3 separate regions of the Homo sapiens genome follow, and regions 1 and 3 are each linked to region 2. The links come from fine-mapping of genetic effects on gene expression. A gene starts in region 2. Each other region holds a variant in brackets. All regions are shown on one strand. Distances are between the middles of the regions. Region 1 has its middle 18 kb from the start of NCAPG2. Region 2 holds the start of ESYT2 (extended synaptotagmin 2). Region 3 has its middle 9.4 kb from the start of LINC00689.

The links. PIP is the estimated chance that this variant, and not a neighbour inherited with it, causes the effect.
Region 1: its variant is fine-mapped to the expression of ESYT2 in lymphoblastoid cells (TwinsUK, PIP 0.95).
Region 3: its variant is fine-mapped to the expression of ESYT2 in whole blood (INTERVAL, PIP above 0.99).

What each region holds. Positions count from the first base shown.
Region 1 is chr7:158,718,854-158,727,036 of GRCh38, forward strand. It overlaps the pseudogene RPL21P76. Among named protein-coding and RNA genes, the nearest start is that of NCAPG2, 18 kb to the left of the region's middle. The variant G/A (reference allele first, on the strand shown) is at 3,663.
Region 2 is chr7:158,826,141-158,834,323 of GRCh38, forward strand. It overlaps ESYT2 (extended synaptotagmin 2), which reads right to left and starts at 3,369. Exons shown (of 23, transcript NM_001367773.1): 1 at 2,949-3,369. The coding sequence starts at 3,278. RefSeq lists enhancers at 2,143-2,212, 4,223-4,332 and silencers at 2,333-2,532, 2,613-2,662, 2,753-2,942, 2,993-3,092, 3,183-3,912.
Region 3 is chr7:158,994,869-159,003,051 of GRCh38, forward strand. No RefSeq gene overlaps it. Among named protein-coding and RNA genes, the nearest start is that of LINC00689, 9.4 kb to the right of the region's middle. The variant G/T (reference allele first, on the strand shown) is at 3,616.

The sequences.
Region 1 (8,183 bases), 110 kb before region 2:
GAGCACAGACGCACGCACACATACACAGGCAGATGTATTTGGCCCATGAAGACAGAGAGCTTCCCCATCACTGCCGCGCAAACCGCCTCGTACATAGTAGGTGCGTGTTTCAATGTTGCTGAATGAATCAAGAGCGCTAAACAGTATTTTGGTTGTATTTTATATTTTGAGAAAGTCAATGAGATGCTTCACAGGTTTACGTTCTCAAAGCAAGGGAATATGAGCGGAGAACAAAAACTTCCTAGCCAAGCACAGTGGCACATGCCTGTAATTTCAGCACTTTGGGAGGCCAAGACAGGAGGTTGCTTGAGCCCAGGAGTTTGAGACCAGCCTGCACACATAGTGAAACACCCATCTCTACAAAAAATAAAAAAATTAGCCAGGCATGGTGGCGTGTACCTGCGGTCCCAACTACTTGGGAGGCTGAGGTGGGAGGATGACTGGAGCCCAGGAGTCTGAGGCTGCAGCGAGCTGGAATTGTGCCACTGCTTTCCAACCTGGGCGATAGAGGGACACCTTGTCTCAAAACAACAACAAAATAACAGTTCCCCAAAGCTGTTTCCTACACCTGAGCAGAAGGAATGAAAAGCCTTTACGTAGCTGTTCTGCCTTACAAAACATACTTTGTTAGCAACTGACGCTAGTATTTACATATTCAGAGAATTATGATGAGACGCATCCAGCGCACTATCTCTGGGCAAATTTTTGGAAGAATTATTGCATAATAAGTGATCCAAGAAGCTTATGCTATTATGTTTTAAGTTAAAATATTCATCTAGAGATGGACATGGTAATGCACAACTAGAGTTCAGCCACGCTTCCTTTCGGCCGGAACCGCCATCTTCCGTCATTGGCCCAAATGACCAACAGGAGGGGAAAGGGGAGAGGCTCCCGATGGATGTTCTCTGGCCTTTTAGAAAACGTGGAGTTGTTCCTTTGGCCACGTATATGCGAGTCTATAAGAAAGGTGATACTGTAGACATCAAGGGAATAGATATTGTTCAAAAAGGAAGCTCCGCAGGTGTGACCGCGGCAAAGCTGGGAGTCGACCGCGTTCTCCAGCGTGCTGTTGCAAACAGACAAGGGCAAGATTCCTGCCGAGAGAATTATGTGCGTATGGAGCACACGGAGCACTCTAAGTGGCTTCCTGAAATGTGTGGAGGAAAATGATCAGAAAAAGAAAGAAGCCGCAGAGAAAGGTACCTGCTTCAACTAAAGCTGCAGCCTGCTCCACCCAGAAAAGCTCACGGTGCGAGAACCAAGGGGAAGGAACCTGAGCTGCTGGAAGCTATTCCCTGTGAATTCATGACATCATAGGTGTTCAAATAAAATAAAATAAAAGACCTCTGGACCGTAAAAATGTTTGTCTTCATTGAGTAGAAGTGTGGCGTCCTCTCCCCGACAGAAATATTTAAACCACATTTTAATCGTGTCCTAATTACGTAACATTTTTACTACTCAAATTTAATAGATTAAAATCGACTCGAAAGTTGTAAGGTGGCTTATTGTGCAACAAATTACTCAATTGGTTAGAAAACGGCCAGATATTATTTATGAAACATTTGTACTGGTTTGAAGACAGTCCCTCTAAATCATTACGGAAGGAATTAAATAATTTACTCTCTCTCTCTCTATATATATATATAACTATATATATAACTATATATAACTATATATAACTATATATGTAACTAAACTATATATAACTATATATAACTATATATAACTAAACTATATATAACTATATATATAACTAAACTATATATAGCTATATATATAACTATATATAACTATATATAAAACTATATATAACTATATATAACTAAACTATATATAATTATATATAACTATATATAACTATATATATAACTAAACTATATATAACTATATATATAACTATATATGTAACTATATATATAACTAAACTATATATAACTATATATAACTAAACTATATATAACTATATATAACTATATATTACTATATATAAGTAAACTATATATAACTATATATAACTGTATATAACTATATATAACTATATATATAACTAAACTATATATAACTGTATATAACTATATATAACTATATATAAACTATATATAACTATATATAACTATATATAACTATATAACTATATATAAAACAAAACTATATATAACTATATATAACTAAACTATATATAACTATATATAACTATATATAACTATATATAACTAAACTATATATAACTATATTTAACTATATATAACTATATATAACTAAACTATATATATCTGTATTTAACTATATATAACTATATATATAACTAAACTATATATAACTATATATAACTATATGTATAACTAAACTATATATAACTGTATATAACTATATATATAACTAAACTATATATAACTATATATAACTATATATAACTATATATAACTAAACTATATATAACTATATATAACTATATATAACTATATATATAACTAAACTATATATAACTATATATATAACTATATATAACTAAACTATATATAACTATATATAACTAAACTATATATAACTATATATAACTATATATAACTATATGTATAACTAAACTATATATAAATATATGTATAACTATATATATAACTATATATAATTATATATATAACTATATATAGCTATATATAACTATATATAACTAAACTATATATAACTATATATATAACTATATATAACTATATATATACTTAAACTATATATAACTATATATATAACTATATATAACTAAACTATATATAACTATATATATAACTATATATAACTATATATATAACTAAAGTATATATAACTATATATAACTATATATAACTAAACTATATATAACTATATATAACTATATATATAACTAAACTATATATAACTATATATATAACTAAACTATATATAACTATATATATAACTATATATAACTAAACTATATATAACTATATATAACTAAACTATATATAACTATATATAACTATATATAACTATATGTATAACTAAACTATATATAACTATATGTATAACTATATATATAACTATATATAATTATATATAACTATATATAACTATATATAATTATATATATAACTATATATAACTATATATAACTAAACTATATATAACTATATATATAACTATATATAACTATATATATAACTATATATAACTATATATATAACTAAAGTATATATAACTATATATAACTATATATAACTAAACTATATATAACTATATATAACTATATATATAACTAAACTATATATAACTATATATATAACTAAACTATATATAACTATATATAACTATATGTATAACTAAACTCTATATAACTATATATAACTATATATATAACTAAACTATATACAACTATATATAACTATATATGTAACTATATATATAACTATATATATATATAGTTCCAGCTACTTGGGAGGCTGAGATGGGAGGACGCTTGAGCCCAGAAGCTTGAGGCTGTAGTGAATTATGATCATGCCTGTGAATATCCATCACATCTCTTAAAAAAAATCATAAATAAAAAGCTTTCACCTTTCAACTCAGGGTCGAAGAAGCTTGGAGAATCATGGACAAGTGGAAGTGAATCTTGAGCCAAACAAAGAGGTTGTTTAATAGTAAGCATTGTCAGA[G/A]AGGTTACAGAGAAGCAAAGCACCCATCCACTGATGGGGCTGCCTGCAGGGAACAGAGGGCCTGAGAGCCGTACCTTTAGTTTGTTTAACTAGAGAAATGGTCATCAACAGCTCTCTTTCAGAGTAGAGTCTCTTTTCAGTGTAGAGACTGGAATTGAACTTTGTAGGCCCTGACTGTGTCTGTGTGGGCCACAGCCATCCTATGCACTTCTCTGTAAGTCTGAGTTAGCCCCGAGGCAGCATCGTCATCCAGAACCCAGGCCAGTGCTCCCCACTCAGGTTAGACTTAGACTCTAGGAAGCTGTGAGCATGTGCTGTGTGCATGTGTGTGGACTGTGTCGCGTGTTATACTGTTGTATGTGTGTTGTGTTGTGTGTCCTGTTATCATTGTTTTGTATGTATATTTTGTGTTGTGTTGTATTGTGTTGTGTTGTCTGAGTGTGTGTAGTATGTCTTGTGTGTTGTGTATATATTGTATGATGTATTGTTTTGTGTATTTGTGTGGTAGTGTGGTGTTATATGCTGTTTTATGAATGTGTGGTATGTGAATTGTATATTGTGTGTATGTTGTGTGTATATTGTCTGTTGTGCAAGTGTGTGGTGTGTTCTTGGTTGTCCATGTAAATGTGTGTGATGTGTATTTTGTTGTGTGTATTGTTTTGTGTGTATTGTGCGTTATGCATGCATGGTGTGTATATATTGTTTGTGTTCTGTGTTGTATCTGTATGAATACGTGTGGTATGTGTTGTGTGCATATTGTGTGTTGTCCATGTGTGTGGTGTGTGTGTGATGGTTCTCACGAGAGACTGGGAACTGAGACCAGCCTCTGCTGTGTCTGATCCAAGTGAGGTTCAGACGCCGGTCCCTATCCCTGTTGCAGAAAAGCCTGTGAACACTGGCATGGGGCTGCGGCGTCGCCAGCCTGGTCTGCGGTGCCCTCATGGTTATGGAAATGGAAGGAGCCAGGCCTGAACGGGGGTGCCGTCCACTGGTGAACTGCGGAGCCCAAGTGTTCATGCTGGGTGCAGGTGAGGCCTCTGCTGTGAGCCTAGAAGTCCTTCCTGCCTACAGGCCTGGGCTCGCAGGCCGAAGACACGGATGCAGCTGTGGTCATGGGTGTGGACTTGGAGGTGGGCTGGCTGTGAAGCCTGATTTGGGCCTCATCTGGTATCAATTCTTTCTGTATTAAGCTTCACTTACACCCAAGTCGTCAGTCAAACCTTGTTAAAAGGCACCATGTTGCCTCTCACAATGTTGAATAAAAGCAGCCAGACACAGGAGAACCCACTGAACGCTTCCACTTCCATCAAGCTCAGAATCTGAAAAAACACATCTGCAGGGCGAGGCGTCAGGAGCGGAGTGATCCCTGGTAGGGTGAGGGCAGAACCAGCAGGGGCACAAGAGGGTGCCTGGGGCTCTGACGTTGCTATTTCTTCTGACGGTGCTGGTTACACAGGTGTGTTCAGCTTGGAAATTCATCAAGGCAGTGAAATAGGATTTGTGCACATTTCTGTCTGCACCTATGCTACCATGAATAAAAGAAGAAACTGCATGGCCTCATTGTACTGTGGAGAATGAAGGAGGCCCCAAAAGGCCAAGTGGAGCCCTGGGGGACTTCACTGGGGATACACAGGCCCAACAGACGCATGACCTCAAAAAGGTGGGGGTAGCCAGGCACAGTGGCTCACGCCTGTAATCCCAGCACCGTGGAGGCCGAGGCGGGAAGATCACATGAGCCCTCTGGACCAGGAGTTGAGACCAGCCTGGGCAATGTGGCAAAGCCCCATCTCTACAAAATATTAAAAAATTAGCCAGCTGTGGTGGTGCATGTCTGTAGTCTCTGCTACTAGGGAGGTTGAGGTAGGAGGATCACTTGAGCCTGGAAGGTTGGGGCTACAGTGAGCTGTGTTCATGCCACTGCATTCCAGCCTGGGCAACAGAGCAAGACTCTGTCAAAAACAACAACAACAACCAAAAAGGCAGGGGAGTAGAGGGCCTTGTTCTTGGACAAATGAGTAGCAAATGCTAGAAGATACTGAATAGCCAGGTATGTGGGGAAGGAATCTGGAGTTGGAGAGGGGAGAGGCACCTCTGACAGTTAGGTTGGTGGAAGGTTCATGCCTTAATGATTTGGGGATTTGAGTATAAGAGAAAGTGTAACACTATTGTTGTCCTAACCTAGTGGACAAGGAGGGGAGGGTGCCACATTCTGATAGAAGTTGAGGACAGAGAGTGGACGTGGTGGCTGATGATCGTGCAAAGCCGAGGACAGAGAGTGGACATGGTGGCTGATGATCGTGCAAAGCCGAGGACAGAGAGTGGACGTGGTGGCTGACGATCATGCAAAGCTGAGGACAGAGAGTGGACGTGGTGGCTGATGATGGTCCAATGCGATGGGCCAGTGCTGTCCTAAGTGCTTTCCAGGGATGACCTCACTTCATCCTCAGTTCTGCCTTTGAGGTAAGGACTACAGCGATTCCTGCTCTGCAGAGGGGGAAATGGAGGCAGAGAAGTTACTTGACTTGCTCCAGGTCCCGTGGGACGGAAGTGGGGCTTGAACCTGGGGGTTCTGACTCCAGAGCCATGCTCTACCCCACTGGGCCTCCCTGTTTCCCAGACTTGAGGTCCTGCAAAATGGAAACGTAGACCCTCTAGAGAGGTGTTTCTGTTTAGGGCCTGACATGTACGCAAAGACAAAAAAGTGACTTTATCCTTAGTATTTCTTGTAGGGCACGCTGGCTCACAACAAGTTCTCTTAAAAAAAAAAAAAATCTGACAATGCCTTAGTTTCTCCTTCACTGTAGACAGCTGTTGCCGACAGGATTCCTGGCTGACAGGCTCTGTGAGCACCTTGAATCCCTCATCCCTCTGCTCTGCCTTCAGGGTTTCTGATGAGAACTCAGCAGTTCGCACTGCGGAGGCGATGAGTCTTTCTCTAGTTGCATCGTCTTTTCAAACAGTTTAACTAAGATGTGCCTGCGTGTGGCTCTTTCCAAATTAGGGAGTTTTTGCTTATTATTTCTTTCAGTGTTTTCACTGGTGCTTCTCTCCCTCCTCCCCTTCTGGAACTCTCACTGCACGTATGTCAGGTTCGTTTTTCTTTATTCTTTTTGTCCCTCAGACTGGATAATCTCGATGGAGCCACCTCCAAGTTTGCTGATTCTTTCCTCTGTCAGCTCAGATACATGGGTGAGCTCCCCTAGTGAATTTCACATTACACTTCTTTAAACCCCAGGCTTTCTGGTTACTGTTTTCGTAATTTCTCTATACTGATCTTCTCTGTTTTGGTGAGACATCATTTTCATACTTTCTTGTAATTGTTGACATGATTCCCTTATTCCCGTGAACACGTTAAAAGTGGATTCAGGGTCTTGTCTTCGTCCACATGATGTCCAGCACCAGGACTTCCTTTGGGGTGGTTTATCTGACTACCTTTTTCCTGTGTGTGGCCTTCACTCTGCTGTTTCTTTGCATGCCTCATCCTTTTTTCATTGAATCTGGACATTTAAGATAATATACTCCAGCCTGGCCAACATGGTGAAACCCCGTCTCTACTAAAAATACAAAAATTAGCCGGGCATGGTGGTGGGCGCCTGTAGTCCCAGCTACTCGGGAGGCTGAGGTAGAAGAATTGCTTGAACCCAGGAGGTGGAGGTTGTGGTGAGCCAAGATGGCACCACTGCACTCCAGCCTGGCAACAGTGCAAGACTCATCTAAAAAAAAAATAAAAAAAAATAAAGATAATATAGTGTGGCAACTCTGTAGACAAGATCCCTCTTCCACTCCTGGCTTTGTTGTTGATGATGGTTGTCACTGTTGTTTCTTTGTGTTTAGTAACATACTTGGACTCTCTAGAAGCTGTGTTGTCACATGCTGCCTCTGAAGCCTCTGCTGGGTTAGCTCACGTGCCAGCTAAGGATTGGAAAGGACTTCTTTGAATACTTCAGACCAGTTGGTCTCCCACCTGCTGCCAAGGGGCCCTGTGCATGTGCTGGGTGCCTTCAGTCTTCCAGCAGGCACCTCACAGCCAGAAATGAGAACTCTTGCAGGTCTTTCCTGGGGATGTGCACAGCCCGGCATGTGCATGTGTCTAGCACCCCAGCAATGCCAGAGTTTTACAAAGCCCTCTGTGGACAGTCTCATCCCCTAGGTTCTCCTTTCAAAGTGTTTGGTTGGCCTCTTGTTTGTCCCAACTGCTACCACTGCCTCAGGCAGCTGCAATGTTAAACAACCGCCACCGATTCTTCTGGACCAACAAACCTGGAGATGGAGTTTTCCTGGGAGCCTGAGAGTTGAAATAGTGACAATTCCCTGGGGATGGAACTTTTGGAGAGCAATAAGCTCCTTCTTTCCCCTCCAGAGGCAGCAAGGCTGCTGGTCATCTGTGCTGTTGCACTTCTAAGGCTGCTGCTGTATGACTTTTTCCATATTTTCCAATAGCTATTGGCATTACCATATACGACACAGACATTTCTACATCCAAATATTTTCCAGATTTTTTTTTTTTTTTTGGTGATGGAG
Region 2 (8,183 bases):
AGCAGAATTTCAGGCACACTTCGAGACCATGCAACCTGCTGGTTTTATTATGAAAATAAAGTATATTACACTTTTAATAAATATCACAAAATAGATACATAAGTATAATTTAAAAGATATTTTTAAAATCTCTCTAAAACTGTCAACATAATCACTGTCAAGTTTCATGTGAATCCTTCAAGAAGCGTCTTAAGCATCCTAGGCACACTGAAGTTTACACATGTGGGATTATGAGCTCAAGTACAAATTTGGAATAAACAAGTAAAACATTCTGGAGAAAATATAAATTCTTCATGAGGTGAACACCACAGTTCATCAGTTTAAGTCACACAGATTAAAAACTTGAAAAGAATCTTTGGCTAAATTACTTTTGTATTTTTTTTTTTTTTAAAGAATTTCAGGCTGGGCGCAGTGGCTCACACCTGTAATCCCAGCACTTTAGGAGGCTGAGGCGGGTGGATCACGAGGTCAAGAGATCGAGACCATCCTGGCCAACATGGTGAAACCCAGTCTCTACTAAAAATACAAAAATTAACTGGGTGTGGTGGTGTGCGCCTGTAGTCCCAGCTATTCGGGAGGCTGAGGCAGGAGAATGGCTTGAACCCGGGAGGCGGAGGTTGCAGTGAGTTGAGATGGTGCCACTGCACTTCAGCCTGGCAACAGAGCGAGATTCCGTCTCAAAAAAAAAAAAAAAAATTTCAGTTCTTCAATAGGGCAGCAATTTCATCTGTACAGTCTGTGTGGCCGGGCGCGGTGGCTCACGCCTGTAATCCCTGCACTTGGGGAGGCCAAGGCAGGCGGAACACAAGGTCAGGAGTTTGAGACCAGCCTGGCCAACATGGTGAAACCCTGTTTCTACTAAAAATACAAAGATTAGCTGGGCGTGATGGTGCACGCCTGTAATCCCAGCTACTCGGGAGGCTGAGGCAGGAGAATCTTTTGAACCCTGGAGGCGGAGGTTGTAGTGAGCCGAGATCACGCCATTGCACTCCAGCCTGGGCAACAGGGAGAGGCTCTGTCTCAAAAAAAAAAAAAAAAGAAAAGAAAAAGAAAATCTGTGTTTCACAAAGATTTTTAACAAGCAAATTTGATATTAGCCAATAACCAAGTATCTATGAAAGTCAGCATCATCACTTCCTGCAAATTTCAGCACTGATAACATTGCTATGTTATCAATATAACATAGCAATGGATGCTAATGGACTCTGTTTTTAGCTACTTTTTAGTATTATGCATCTTAGTGTAATATAGACACAAAACGTCACTTTAAAGTCCTTTTCCATTTCCAAAGTGCACCTCCTCTGTTCTTAGTTTTCCCCACCTCGGTTCCTCTTAACTTCCTTTTTCTACACACCCCTCGGTTTTTCCCGCCGCTAGCTAAAAGCTGCACCATGCCAGTTACCTTGGTTCTCCAAATATGACTCCCTCATGCTCACCACGCATCGGCAGAACTGTACATTCCCAAGCTCCTTACATTATATTCTTACTCCAGTTGCAATATGACGTCACAAAGTAGCATCTACTACCTTCTTCTTGTCTTGGGCACGCCTCCTTTCTAATTCTTGTTTGCCATCTGTGTCATGCCTTACTTCTCAGGTGTCTCATGACTGGAAACAGGGACTTTTCTCCTCTAAGAGAAAATGACCCTTCCGAAACCCACTGCTGGTCACCTTCACCCCAAAGTTTATATTAAGCCTAATGGAAGAATCATTAAAATCCTTTCTTGCAGTGTGAAACTGTGAAGCCAAGTCATGGCTAAGAAAGAATTAGGGAATGACAAGAAAAAGATTTGAAGCCAACTCTTCGTGTCTATAGTCCATAAATATACGAGGTAGAGAACTGCCGGGTTAAAAATAAAATAATACCATGACTCTTGTTATTGCTGCAACTCTTCCAAAACTTCCTGCCACACACACACACATTCACACTGGATTCAGGTCGATCCCATATAAAAATGCTCAGTCTCACAATTATACTTGCAAAAAAACTGAAACAATCTTTCAATTATCTAATATCTCCACATCTTTCGAGAGACACTTACTGCCCTTGAAATGCGTCAGAAACAACCAAGACACGAGTGCGTCTTCTCCCGGTAGAAGAAAAAGTTAACTTCTCCCCCACCAGCTGTCATTACGTTTTTTAAAAAACAGAGAGAAGGAAAAGCTGAAGCCACCCGGAGCATTTCCAGGCCGGCAGGGCTTTGGGAATGCGCACGAGAATCGCGCTGGGCGCTCTGAGAGCAGAACCGGCCGCTCAGGCCCCTAAGGAGACCCCGCGGGCGGCACCAGGAGGAAGCGCGCGCTCCGGGCAGGGCCGCGGCCGAAGAGGGGGCGCCAAGCCCGGTACCTGCCGCTGGCGCTCGGGGTCTGCAGGCCGGGGGAGGGAAGCGGGCTTTGTGAAGAGGGGTCTCCGAGAAAGCCGCGCGGGACGGCGAGGGGAGGCTTCACGAGGGCAGACGCGCCCCGGACCCGGAGCCTGGGCGGGCGGGGAAGCGGAGAAGGGGACGCCCGACTTGGACGGAGGGAGGGCACGGAGCACTCAGGACTAGGGCGGGAGCGGCGAGCAGCGGGCGGCGGCCCCAGGCGGACAGGTTCGCAGGGAGTGGGCCGGAGGCCGGGGCGGGGCTGGGGTCTGCACTCGCCCTAGCGGGCAGGTCGCCAGCAGGCTGGGAGTCGGGGCCGGGGGGCGGGGCGGGGTCTGCACTCACCTAGGTTGGCAGGTCGCAGGAACCGGCCCGGGGGCCGGGGCTGGGGTCTGCACTCGCCCAGGCGGAAGGGAAGCGCCTGCCTGGACCGGGGTGGGTGGGGGACTACGAAGGCGGGAGCCGGGGCAGGGCTGGGGTCTGCACTCACCCAGGCGGCAGGTCGCGGGGAGGGGAGTGCCTGCCTGGACGAGGGGAGATCGGGACTGGTGGTCAGGGGTCGGGACGGGCAGGGGTCTGCACTCACCCAGGCGGGCAGGTCGCAGGCGCGCACCCCCAGGCGCACGACGCGCTCCTCGTCTTCCAGCAGCGCCAGCGCGCGGCACAGGCGCAGGGCCTTGAGGCCGCGGCTGCGGCGACACCAGGCGAGCAGCGCGAGCGCGAGGAGAACCCAGCTGAAGCTGAGCCCCAGGTAGCCCAGCGCGTACACGGGCAGCAGCAGCGCGAAGCTCCGCGCCAGCTGCGCCAGCAGCCCGGGCAGCTCCACGCTCAGCACGCCCCCGGGGTTCTCAGGCGCCGCGCGGCCCCCAGCCCCGCCGGCGCCCGCCTCCGGGCCCTCGCCCCGGGCGCCGCTCATCGCCCCGCAGTGCCGCGCTGCCCTCCCGGCCGAGGCGGGCTGGGTGCTCGCGCTGATCCCGGGCGGCTCAGCCCCGCGCCAGCGCCCCTCTGAGGGGACGCGGCTCCGCCGCACGCCCGCCTCCGCCCGGGACGGTGGCGTCATCACGCGGGGCGGGAGCGGCGTGGGCCTGGGGCTGGCACGTCACCGGGAGCGGGCGGGGTGGATACTGACGTCATCGCGCGGGGCGGGCCGTGGGCCGGGTCGGAGACTACTGGAGTGGGCCGGGCAGGCGCACGACGTCATCACGCGAGCGTTGTGTCTCGGCTGGCGGGAGCCGGGGACGGGAAAGGAGAGTGCTCGGTGCGTGGGCTGGGCGTGCCTGCGTCCCCTCGAGCCCCACGGGGCACCCTCCCCACTTGCCTGTGGCCTCGGAGCCCGCGGGCGGTTTTGGCTCGGCGTCGCGCCCCGAGGCGGCTTCCGGGTGCGTGGCTGCGCTCGCCGAGGCCCGGGAAGTTGCCGTCGTCAAACCCAAAGGCTGACCGCCTCTGGGAGCTGCTGGCAAACGTGGGGGTGCGCGGCCGCTGAGCGCAGCCGGGGTGGCGGTGGGATGAGAGGGCGGCGTCCCTGTTTGCGGTCATTTTGCGGCCAGGAGGACGGGTGAGAGGGCGCCGCCCGCCGGAGGTCGGACGGGCGCCGCTGGCGGGAGTCCTCCGGTATTTTTCGGTGTGAGGTTGCCTAGCCAGTGTGCAAGGTTGTGGCTTTTGCGGAGTCTCTCGGGACGGTCTTGTTATCGGGCATTCCGGCGTGAGAACGCTGCCTCTGGGGCCCTTCCCACCCTGCTTGTCAGGGTTTTAAACACAAACGACTCCGTTGTGACCTTGACAACTCTCACACAGTTCAGTTGGCTTTTAAGATGCCTTTAATCCCAAAAGTCCTCCCTGAGGGGTCTGGTAGTGCCGGGCAAAGACCACCGCAAGCGCCCAAGGGACGCTGTTGACACTCGGGAACTCCACCCCGGGCACCACGCAGCTTCGCCGAAGGTGTTAATATTGTGGCCAACTATGAATAGCTGTTTCAAACGACTAATTTTGGGCCTTTCCTGTGATTCCTGAGGTCACTTTTCAGTTAACTCAAAAACACAACTATTGATCACTTTACTTTCCAGTGAATTCAATCGAGTTAATTATATTTGTTCTGTAGTTTCTTTCAAGGAAACTCCAAGCCAAACAGTAGCAAAGAACATCCTACTTGACTGTTTTTGAGCATATTCAGTGAATTCCAAGGAAATTTTTACTGAATTTGTAACAGAGTAGGGCACTGGCAGGTACTGAATGAATAAACAAATGCCCAGAAGAAGCAGGGTCACCTTTACATAGGAATCTGTCTCCCCTCGTTCCTGCGTCTTCATAATTTTGTGTGCATATGTATGTGGAGATTATATCACATATGTAAAACATTGCAGAGTCTAAACTCTCAACTCCAGGCAAGGGCAGTAAACCCCAAGCAAGGAATGGAAGTGGTTTCCCTTTTCTTACTCTTCACAGTCCCTGGTTTGCTGCAGCAACAAATTATATTATGTAGATTGTAAATATGCAACCGGTTAATGCTCCTAACACCACCTTTCATTCAAAACTAAGCCTCAACACAAAAGCAAGTAATTGCTTTGTTGACACAGAAAGGAGCCTGAGCCTTTCTTTTGCAGCTTTCCTCTACTGGAAAATTGTAGGATCACATCCTACAAAGACTTGCATAAACATAAGCCACGTAAAAAATTCTGTAATCCCAGCACTTTGGGAGGCCGAGGAGGGCAGATCACGAGGTCAGGAGATCAAGACCATCCTGGCCAACATGGTGAAACCCCGTCTCTACTAAAAATAACAAAAAATTAGCCGCGCATGGCGGCGCGCACCTGGAGTCCCAGCTACTCGGGAGGCTGAGGCAGGAGAATTACTTGAACCCGGGAGGCGGAGGTTGCAGTGAGTCGAGATCGCACCACTGCACTCCAGCCTGGGCGACAGAGCAAGACTACGTCTCAAGAAAAAAAAAAAAATCCTGTGCCATGTGCCATCCAGTGGTTGACCCAAGGATGTAAACTAGATTGAAGAGAAGTTTCCATGTTGCATACCAGTCAGCCCAAGTGTCCTCAGCTTCCCTCTGTGTGAGCCCCGGGTTTCCAGCCCCTCCCTGTGGTTAATTGCCTGCAGAAAGCAGATCCTAAGGCTCTGCCACAGCTCAGTCTTACAGGTGTCTGGTCTGACTGCAGGTCCAGCTCGGCTCTTAGATTTTTGCTAATATTATACCCCTCAATCTCCTGTGACCTTTCATGACCCCTCCATCCTTTCCTTCTTGTAGACAAGGAGAAGTGCTGCTTTCTCTGGAGTGTCATTCCGAGTGCTCCGGTGCACAGCTGCGAAGTTCCAGCCTTCCTGGTTTCAGAGGAAAGTGCTATCTTGTGCTTAGGTTCAACTCTTCCTGCTTTTGGGTCCTCCCCCACACCTCTAAATACGTCTCGTTATGGAGGGTGGGAGCACGTGCTCTGCATCTCTTCAATTTGGAGGTTATACCAGCAAATTAAATATACTGGGGACAGTGAAAGCCAGGTTTCTTGCTGTTGGAGAAGGTAAAAACATGGAAGAGGGAAGGCTAAAAAGAACACTGAGGGATTGGATTGGAACTGGAAGTGGTAGTATGAACTCATTTTTTTAAAATATGTATATACAGATAGATATAAAGATAGCTGTATGTGTGTGCACACATGTGTAGGTATATGTGCATATAAACACAGAAATAGTTTCTAGTTCTGTCTGCTGAGTATCTAGATGCAATGGTACCCCAGTACCAGTGATCACAGCTAGCCCCCAGATCTTATCTTCTAAATAAGGTTTTCCAACAAAAGGAATCAGGGCTCTTTGGAGAAATGGTTAATTTCAGGGCTGGAGTGGAAGTACAAGATGATCCTGGAATAATTTTGTTGTTCAAGGAAGTGAAGAAGTGCTCAAAGATTGACAGGAGATCAAAGGACATGGAAAGTAGTTGGAGGGAGTTCTTGCTGGCGAAATCTAGGACAATTTGAGCAACAAAACAAAGAATGATATTGGCAGATTACCACTGAGTGAGCAAAATAGAAACGCATGAGTTGAGTCCACACTGATGTAGATCAACAAACCAGTGATGAATGCAGGGAAAATAATAGTGGAGAAGGGGAGGTTCTTCTTTACAGTAGAATGTGAACTCATAAATGGAGAAGGAATTATGAGAATGGAAATAACCATTTACCAATCACTGTAGTGGGGTTGTTGCAGGAGTGAGAATGGAAATAACCATTTACCAATCACTGTAGTGGGGTTGTTGCAGGAGTGAGCTATCAATGGAGGCTCAGGGTGGTAGGTGGAGATTTGATGAGGAATGAGAATGGACATCTTTCTTCAGCATACTTTTCCATTACAAAGAGGAAAATTGAGACTTTCTGGTGGGAAACACCAGCAGACACCAGCGTGGCCAGGTAATGAGACACCTGTCACCAGTGGAGAAAAGTTGAAACTGAGTCCCCGTGCACTGTGCTGAGAAGAGCACAGCAGCACGCCTGACACTTTTCTGCCAGAAACCACAGCCTCAGTCTAGCCTAGGGAATATCAGATAGACCCAGAAGGAAGGCCATTCTGTTTTCTTTATTACTGTCATGAGCCAGGAACAGTGGCTCACGCTTTGGGAGACTGAGGCAGAAGGATCACTTGAGGCTGGGAGTTCGAGACCAGCCTGGGCAATGTAGTAAGACTCCATCTTTACAAAAAAAAATCTTAAAAATTGCCCTGGCATGGTGGCACGAGCCTGTAGTCCCAGCTACTAAGGCTGAGGCAAGAGTATTGCTTGAGCCCAGGAATTCAAGGCTGCAGTGAGCTATGATTGCACCACTGCACTCTAGCCTGAGTGACAGAGGGAAACCCCTTCTCAAATAAATAAATTGTCATAAGAGACAGGATAAGACTAAGAATTGTTCCAGATTATATGAGACTGAAGAGACATAACAACTCCATGCAATGCATGTTCCTGGGAGGTCCCAGACATGGGAAAAGAAGTGTGGGCACAGTTGGTGAAGCTTGGGTGGGGTCTATGGGTTGGACAATGTATTGATATTGATTTCTCCACTGGGAAGGTTGTGTAGTGGAGGTGATCCTTGTTTTTAGAGTATTTGGGGGTGCCGTGGTTTGAATGTGTCCCTTCCAAAATTCAGATGTTGAAACTGAATGGCCAAGGCCAGGTGTGGTAGCTCACCAGTAATCCCAGCACTTTGGGAGGCTGAGGCAGGAGGATCGCTTGAGCCCAGGAATTCAAGACCAGCCTGGGCAACAATGGGACCCCCATCTATACAAAAAATTTAAAAATTATCTTTGCATGGTGGCATGTGCCTGTAGTCCCAGCTATTCAGGAGGCTGAGGTGGGAGGATCATTTAAGCCCAGGAGATCAAGGCCGCAGCGAGCTCTGGTCACGTCACTGCACTCCAGCCTGAGCCACAGAGCGAGAACCTATCTCAGAAAAAAAAAAGAAACTTAGTGGTCAGTGTGATGGTATAAGGAGGTGAGACCATGAGGTGACTAGGCCATGAGGCTCCTCCCTGTGGATGGAGGTAGTGACCTTGCAGACGAGGCTTCTGGCCAGGTGAGCACTCAACACTCCTCCCCTCACCAACAGGGTGCTGTCTTGGAAGCAGAGGATCCCTCACCAGACATCAAACCTCTTGGTATCTTTTTTTTTTTTTTTTTTTGAGATGGAGTCTCGCTCCGTCGCCCAGGCTGGAGTGCAGTGGCGTGATCTCAGCTCACTGCAAGCTCCGCCTCCCGGATTCACGCCATTCTCCTGCCTCAGTCTCCCCAGTAGCTGGGACTACAGGCGCCCACCACCATGCCCAGCTAATTTTTTGTATT
Region 3 (8,183 bases), 170 kb after region 2:
ATGGAATACTATGCAGCCATAAAAAAGAACAAGATCACGTCCTTTGCAGCAACATGGATGGAGCTAGAGCCCATTATCCTCAGCAAACTAATTCAGGAACAGAAAACCAAATACCGCGTGTTCTCACTTACAGTGGGAGCTAAACATTGAGAACACATGGACACAAAGAAGGACTAACAGACACAGGCATGACTTCAGGTGGAGGCGGGAGGAGAGCAAGGACCGAGAAACCACTTACCTGGTGCTATGCCTATCACCTGGGTGACAAAACAGTCTGTACAGCAAACCCTGTGACACGCAATTTACGTAACAAACCTGCACATGCACCACTGAACCTAAAAGTTAAAAATAAACATGCAAAATACGGAAAGTCAAAAAGCATGTTAGGATTAAAAGAAATCATTTTATTTATTATTGATGGGGGCATTACTTGTTATGCCAATTACAGTTTGTTATGATGTCACATTTCCCTGGAGGTTTTTGGGAGATGGAAAAACACGAACAACAGCAGGGCTGGAGCTGGAGCTGCAACGTGATGGTTCCTTCCTCCTGCCCTCGGGGGCCAGTGCCAACACCGCAGCAGGTGCGGGAAGAGGCCTTGGCGGGACACGTGCTCTGGAGTAAGGCTTGGTTAAAGCTCTGGCATCGGTTTTCCACACCACGCCAAAGTAGACAAAGGTAAGCTGCCGGTGGCGCCACATTTCAGGGCTTGCTGGGGAGAGTGAACAGAAAGGACCAGGTGGCCCAGGGTCACTTACTACAAAGCGAGGTGTTGAGGCATTTCTTCCTGCAAGAAGTCATAGCGGGAGGCCGTGGCGGACCCCACCACGCAGAAGGCTTCCCTGGTCCACGTTCTGATCCCACGTCCTCCTCGGCTATTCCCCTGCTGCTGACCACCTGTCCCAGCCTCACCTGAAAGCACATCCCGTCCTCCCATCCTCAGTCCCAGGAGCATCACTTGCTGAGGGATTGTCACGGCCGCGAGGCTTCAGCCCGAGTGCTGGAGTTGAGAACCTGGCCTTGGGCTGACTCTTGGCAAAAATGTGATTTCCTCTGTGTCAGACAGACCCTGGTGTGTCTCGTAGGGCCCTCGCTTCCCCCTTTCCTGACGGGCCCCCCGCGACCCTCGCCTCCCCATATTTCCCGACGTGTCCCCCTAAAATGTTTTTAGGTGAAGATACTGAAATGTAATAAAACTTATTTTGCTGCAGATGCCGAGGGTGTCTGCACTTTAAAGGATATTCCATTTGAAAAACACATTTCTAGTGGTGAAGTTTCATCCCAATGACGAGACTCATCCTGGTCAGTCTTTTTTCTGGGGCTTGGATAAGGTGAGGCAGCCCGGAGCCATCGCGGGCCTGGCCTGGCTTCCTTGGGGCACCTTCTGTCCTCCAGCCCGGTGGGGTCCAGCAGGCCACTCACACCTGGCTTTGCTTCATGGGGACTTTGCTGCCTCTGGCATTGTCCACTTGAGCCCTGTGGGCGGCTGAGACAGCCAGGGCTGCGGGGGTGGCTCTGGGGGACTCCTGGCCGGTCGCGTCCATTAGGATTTGACCCCAGAGGGACTGGGTGTGAGAAATATGGGGCCAGGCGGCTCCCCTGCTTCTCCGCTTCCAGGGCGGGTTCCATGATGGCCTGTGTCCCCAGCGGATAAGAAGTGCAGCCCCGTTTTCAGAGCAGGGTCGGGGGAGGACAGGGCCTCACATTGCTTGTCAGAGGGGTTGCACCGGTGGTCGTAGCTTGCACAGGCCCCTGGGGTCTCCCTCCTTTGTTGGATGCAGGCTGCTCCCACCGCCTTGGCTCTCCCAAGTTCCAGGTCTAGAGTCTCCATCACCTGCTGGAGAATTTCACTGAGGGCCGCCCAGGCTGCCCAAGCTCAGCGGGTCCAGGAAGAGCCTGGGTCCTCCCCGGTGTTGGGCTCTTGCTCCGAGGATGGTGGATGACGCTCCCAGCACCACCGTCCGAATCCAAGCGAAGGACCCATCCTCGGCCGCTTCCCGTCCCCCTCACCCGCCAGGACCTGCCGGCCCAGCCTCTTCACACCCCGCGGCCTCTCACCGCGTGGCTGAGCCTGGGCCGCCGTTCGGACCGCGCGGCAGCCTTCGATTCTGTGACTCTCCTCGCCTCGAACCCCCCACGGTTCTCAGCATAAAGCCCAGACTCCGTGGCTGGTGGAAGCAGCAGCTCCCTGGATCGGTCCTGGGCATATTTACAGCTTCGCTTTTTACCCTGGGATCCACTGTTCGACTCGCAACACCTTTCCGGAGCCCGGCGCTTCACTCGCAGCCTCGCAGCCTCGCAAACGCCCGTCCCTGCCCCCGGGCGCGTCCCAGCCTCCTCGGGTTCCCACGCGCTCCGGGGAGCCCCTGCCGCAGGCGCCTTCTGGAGCGGGTCCTGGGACCCGTTTCCTTCTTCCCCTGGGCAGCCCCCGCGGGTCTTTCACAGTCGCTTCCGTCCGCGATTCCTGGGGCTCCTGCCGCTTTGTGCCCCTTTGTCTCCCACAGCACACGCCTCCCAAGTGTTGACTTTTGGGTCACTGGGACAAAGCGTCCCCGCGAGGGGATTTGCTGGCCCTCTGAGATTTAACTGGAAACCCGTCTCAGTGGGAATCAGGGCAGAAATAGGCAAGGGACCTTACAGACAAAACGCCCCTCGGCACGAATGTAACTGCACCGTGATGAAGGGTGAATATGCCACCATCTGCCAGGAAGGCTCATCGGGCAGAGGGCTAAGGGGCAGGCTTTGCAGCAGTTAAGCTTAGAGAAAGGAGGGACACGCGGCGCCTTACACAGTCCACAGAAGAGAGGCCGTCCCTCGGCGGTCCCCTCCGCTGGGGGTCCCACGCACATGTCCTCGGCCCATGCCCCTCGGCCTTCCTGGGGTTAGCTCTGACCAGAAGACAGGGCTCTGCTCACCCTCGCCGCCAGCTGCGCACCCACGGTCTAGCTTCTGCGTATCAGCCTCTGGTGACTTGGATTTGGGGACCTCCGGAGGAGTGCGAAGGCTGGTGGATGAAGCTTGGAATGTGGATTTCGGATGGAAATCCCAGTGTGGGGGGCCCCCTCCACACCCCCGACCTGCGTCCACGCTCCCCTCTCCTCAGAGGGACCCCCCCTCCACACTCCCCACCTTCATCCACGCTCCCCTCTCCTCAGTGGGGACCCCCCTCCACACCCCCACGTGGTCCACGCTCCCCTCTCCTCAGTGGGACCCCCCTCCACACCCCCATCTTCATCCACGCTCCCCTCTCCTCAGTGTGGACCCCCCTCCACACCCCCCACGTGCGTCCACGCTCCCCTCTCCTCAGTGGGACCCCCCTCCACACCCCCATCTTCATCCACGCTCCCCTCTCCTCAGTGGGACCCCCCTCCACACTCCCCACCTTCATCCACGCTCCCCTCTCCTCAGTGGGACCCCCCTCCACACTCCCCACCTTCATCCACGCTCCCCTCTCCTCAGTGGGACCCCCCTCCACACCCCCCACGTGGTCCACGCTCCCCTCTCCTCAGTGGGGACCCCCCTCCACACTCCCCACCTTCATCCACGCTCCCCTCTCCTCAGTGGGGACCCCCCTCCACACCCCCCACGTGCGTCCACGCTCCCCTCTCCTCAGTG[G/T]GGACCCCCCTCCACACTCCCCACCTTCATCCACGCTCCCCTCTCCTCAGTGGGACCCCCCTCCACACTCCCCACCTTCATCCATGCTCCCCTCTCCTCAGTGTGGACCCCCCTCCACACTCCCCACCTTCATCCACGCTCCCCTCTCCTCAGTGGGACCCCCCTCCACACCCCCACGTGTGCCACGCTCCCCTCTCCTAAGTGTGGACCCCCCCCCACACTCCCCATCTTCATCCACGCTCCCCTCTCCTCAGTGGGGACCCCCCTCCACACTCCCCACCTTCATCCACGCTCCCCTCTCCTCAGTGGGGACCCCCCTCCACACTCCCCACCTTCATCCACGCTCCCCTCTCCTCAGTGTGGACCCCCCTCCACACTCCCCACCTTCATCCACGCTCCCCTCTCCTCAGTGGGGACCCCCCTCCACACTCCCCACGTGCGTCCACGCTCCCCCCTCCTCAGGGGCTTGTTTTCTGCCCAGGGCCATTTCCTATGGCGAGGGAACGAGTCAGGAAGCAGTGATTCCACTCACGCTCCAGGTTTTCCTGACTCACGCAGACGCTTAACATCTTTTCCTTGGCTCTTATTTGTAGCATCTAACAACGTCCAGATCACCTGTAAAATGTGCAGCCTCCCCTCTGCCTTCAAGAGGCAGCTGAGGTCCTGTCTTGGGTCATTGTGTGGTTCTCAGGAGGTCTTCAGGAGCCCCTCACGTTGAAGGTACCCAGTGTTTCCCTGACCAACAGAAGGTGTTTGTTTCACCACATTTTCCTTACGTTCTTATGGAAAAAATTTAATCCTTAAAACGTGGCTTTCTGCTAATAAAGAAAGAACAAACTCCCTACGTATCTTAAGAAACAGTCAAAACGGCTTGCTTGCTAGTCTGAAATTCTTTCAACACATATACATGAAAAGAGAATTATTCTTTGACCCAGGATCTTCTGAGGCCAGGCGGGTGTGGATAGGTGTCCTCTGTCCTGACAGCGGCTCCTGCCCAGTCTGGAGTGCTGGTGGTTTATCTGCGTGGCCTCTGCAGCTCTGTGTGCTATGCGCGTCTCGAGGTGGAGAGACTTGGTGTCTGCATTCCTGGGTTCGTGCTCTATTTCCACGCACAGGTGGAAGAAAAAGAAGGGCGAGGCCGCACAGTGCTAAGACGCAGGCTCTGGGATCACACTACCCGGACCCAATGCGCGAGGCTGCCCCTGGGGCTCCGCCCCATCTTCCCTCCTCAAACCGCCCCGTGCTCGTTCCTCCCCCTGGGCCTGTGAGGAGAACCCCTGGCTTAGCGTTTCTGTCCAATGCCAGAAACCAGCGGGTGGCTAGCTCCATTCTACCCAGCGCTCCTGACTGACCCTCATCAGCCACCAAAACTTTTTGTTGTCCTGGCTCAGTCTTGAGCGGATCGTTGCTAATGTTACTGATCATTTCACATTCCCAGATGATATTTCGGAGCCCCTCCGCTCCCCACCCGGCAGCCTTGTGAGTCACATTTTCACAGAGAACACACTGCTGGGAAACCTCCTGCTGAGCTCAATGTCTCACCTGGATTCTTGTTAGTTCTGATTTCCAATCTTCAGAGGTGGCATTTTCCGATTTTTCCTTCGTACAATGTATTCCTTCATTTGACAAATACGTGTTGAGTACTTGCCCTGTGACTGGCCCCGTGGACAGACACAATAGGGAAGCAAGATGGAATTCCAGGTCCCGAGAGGGTGAAAGAACGGGGGACGGCCTGGCGATCATGACGCCATCCACGGTTAGGTCTTCTTAGCAGGGGTCCAGGAACAGCTGGCTCCCTGAGCAGGGAAGAGTGCCAGCATAGCCAAGATGCTGAGAGTCCAAACCCCTCCGCAGACAGCGGGTGGAGGTGGGACCAACTGCTTTCTCTGAGAAGAGGATGAAATGCCAACATCCATGTGGATGCGCCAGAGGCAGCCAGAATCTGTGCCTGCCCCCTGTGGGTTTTCTTTTCTCTCTTTAAAAATGTTTTATTTTTAAATTTTGTGGGTACATAGTAGGCATATATATTTATGGGGTACATGAGATGCTTTGATACAGGCATGCAATGCGTGCTGATCACATCATGGACAATGGGGCATCCGTCCCCTCAAGCATTTATCCTTTGTGTTACAAGCAATATAATTACACTCTTTTAGTTATTTTAAAAGAGCTAGGGTCTTGTTCTGTTGCTCAGGCTGGTCTCAAACCTCTAGGCTCAAGCAATCCTCCCACCTCGGCCTCCCAAAGTGCTGGGATTACAGGTGTGAGCCACCATGTCCAGCCTCTTTATTTTATCTTTTTCCCGTTATCACGGGTTGAGGCTGCAAAGTGTTGTCAGTATCATCTGCTGGTCAGTGTGCAGGAAGTAACATCCCCAGGGAAACATGGAGCCCTGCGATGGCCCTGATGGCTTTTTAGATTACGATGGGCTGTGTTTGGAATGAATATAGTGGGAATTGCTAACCTGTGGTTTTCTCTCCTTTGACAGTGTCACCAGGTGAATTAGTACAAAAGGTAGGAGACAACTGCCCGCCCAGACCTCGTCAGGAGGAAAACGCAGGCCTCGCTTCTCAGCAACCCCCTCTAGAGCTCATCAGAGTAAAATCGTCCATTACAGTTTCTCAAATTCGCCACCTATGTGAAGACACAAAATGAAAACCCTAGAGACCCCGCCAGGCCCTCATTTCCTTCTCATCCCCAAATTTGTCCCTCCAGGAAGTGCAGCCAGGAAAGCCGGTGCTTGGAGCCTGGCTCACCCGCCGCGGAGCTGGGGACCTCGTGCACGTCACCGAGGCTCTCCGGGGCTGTTTCCTAATCTATGAAATGTGGTTCTTTACTCACAGGTCTGTTCTGAGAAGTGAATAACAGGACGTCTTCTGCATGCCCCGACCCCTGACAGCTTTCGGCCACTCAGCAAATGCAACGTCCTTCCTGGCTCAGGTTCTCTAGTTTGCTTCTGAAAGGGGCCGCACTTCTTGTCATATCCAATAAGGCCTGTTTTTGTTCTTTCCTAACGCACCTGCCTCACCTCTGAACAATATCATTTTTCTATTTTGGAAATGATGTATTTTTGGCATGAGGAAAATGAGAAAGTTTACCACCCGTGCTGAGAGCCGGCCTGCCTGGCAGTGGCTGAAGATGCTGGAGAGAGCTGCTCTGAACTTTGCTGACTGGAGCGAGACTTTGCATTTGGGAGACTTTATGCAGCTTGGAGCTCCACAAAGGCCGGTTCCTCCTCACTTCCACTCGATGCCTCCCTGCTGCTGTCCTGAACAACTGTCCTAACTTTGTTTGTGGAGTATTGTCAGAATTCACTTCTCCAAATGAAGTCTCTTCTTAGCACGAGACTTTGGGGTTTGCTCACTGCGGTGGCTGTCCAATGGTCGATGGCTGATGCCCTTGCAGCGTCTCAGTCCCTGGTGCCTGTGAGCTCCCCAGGGTTCCTGGATTCCTCAGTCCTGAATCAGGAGGAGAAGGTGGTAGGAGAGCCCATGTGTGTGGGTGGCCTCAGCCCCAACCCCCGACCTCCAGGGCTGCCCGTCTCCCCGTGTGAGGAGGGGCTGCACAAAGGGGTCCCTAGGTCTCTCCTGCTCAAGGTGCCTGTGCTCCCGTGACTGCAGCCGCTCATCGCCAAGTTCTGAGCTTCCACAGGCTCAGTCTCAACCACGGACCCGAGGGTCCCTTCTCTGTGGCACCACAATTCCAAACTTTCATTTCAGAAGGATGAGAGGCTATCTGGCCTAGCACTGGGCATCTGACCTAGCACTGGGCATCCGGATACTTCAGGTTTATGAGCTGAGTGCACAAATTGTAAGTGACACTTCAGAGGCTGCCAGATTGAGACAGATAATTAGCTACACCAGTTACTTTTGAAAATTTAATGGTATGTGATGAGCACGTGTTGGATCATCACTGGATGGATACCTTCTTCACACATATAAATGGTAATTTATCTACATGCAGATGGTTAAGTCAAACCACAGCCCACCCAACAGTTCTAGACAGATTCTCACCGGAAGCTTCTAGGGGGGCTCATTTGACAGAATTCCACGTCTCTAAGCAGACATGCCCGAAGGTTCAGACCCTGTGGCCGGAGAAGCGCGTGGAGCAGGGCTCCTCCCTCGCCCCGTCTGGTAAGTGCTGTGGAGTATTTCAGCTTTTCTTTATCCTCCAGAGGGGGCTTGCTTTTGCCACCTTGTTGTAGTTGTTTAAAATTCATACATACATGCAGACACACTGTTGCTGAGGTAACTTGATTCCCTCATGGAACCAGGAACCTGGAGACAGGGTTCCCATTGCTTTGGTTTGGCCTAGTGATGTGTCTCTGCCAGATGCACTCTAGGAGGTGCCTGCAGGGCCACGGGATGCTGGTCACTGCTATAGGAAAGAGGTGAGGCAGTGTCTGTGTGCAAGTTATGCTCAGGCCTTCAGACAGCGCAGCCACGAGGCACAAACTTCTAGGGATAGGCCACATCCAGACACAGCTCGGGGATGTCACAGGCTCACTTCCAGACCCCCGCAACAAAGCCAGACACACGCATTTTTGGGTTTCCCGTTGCATATGGAGG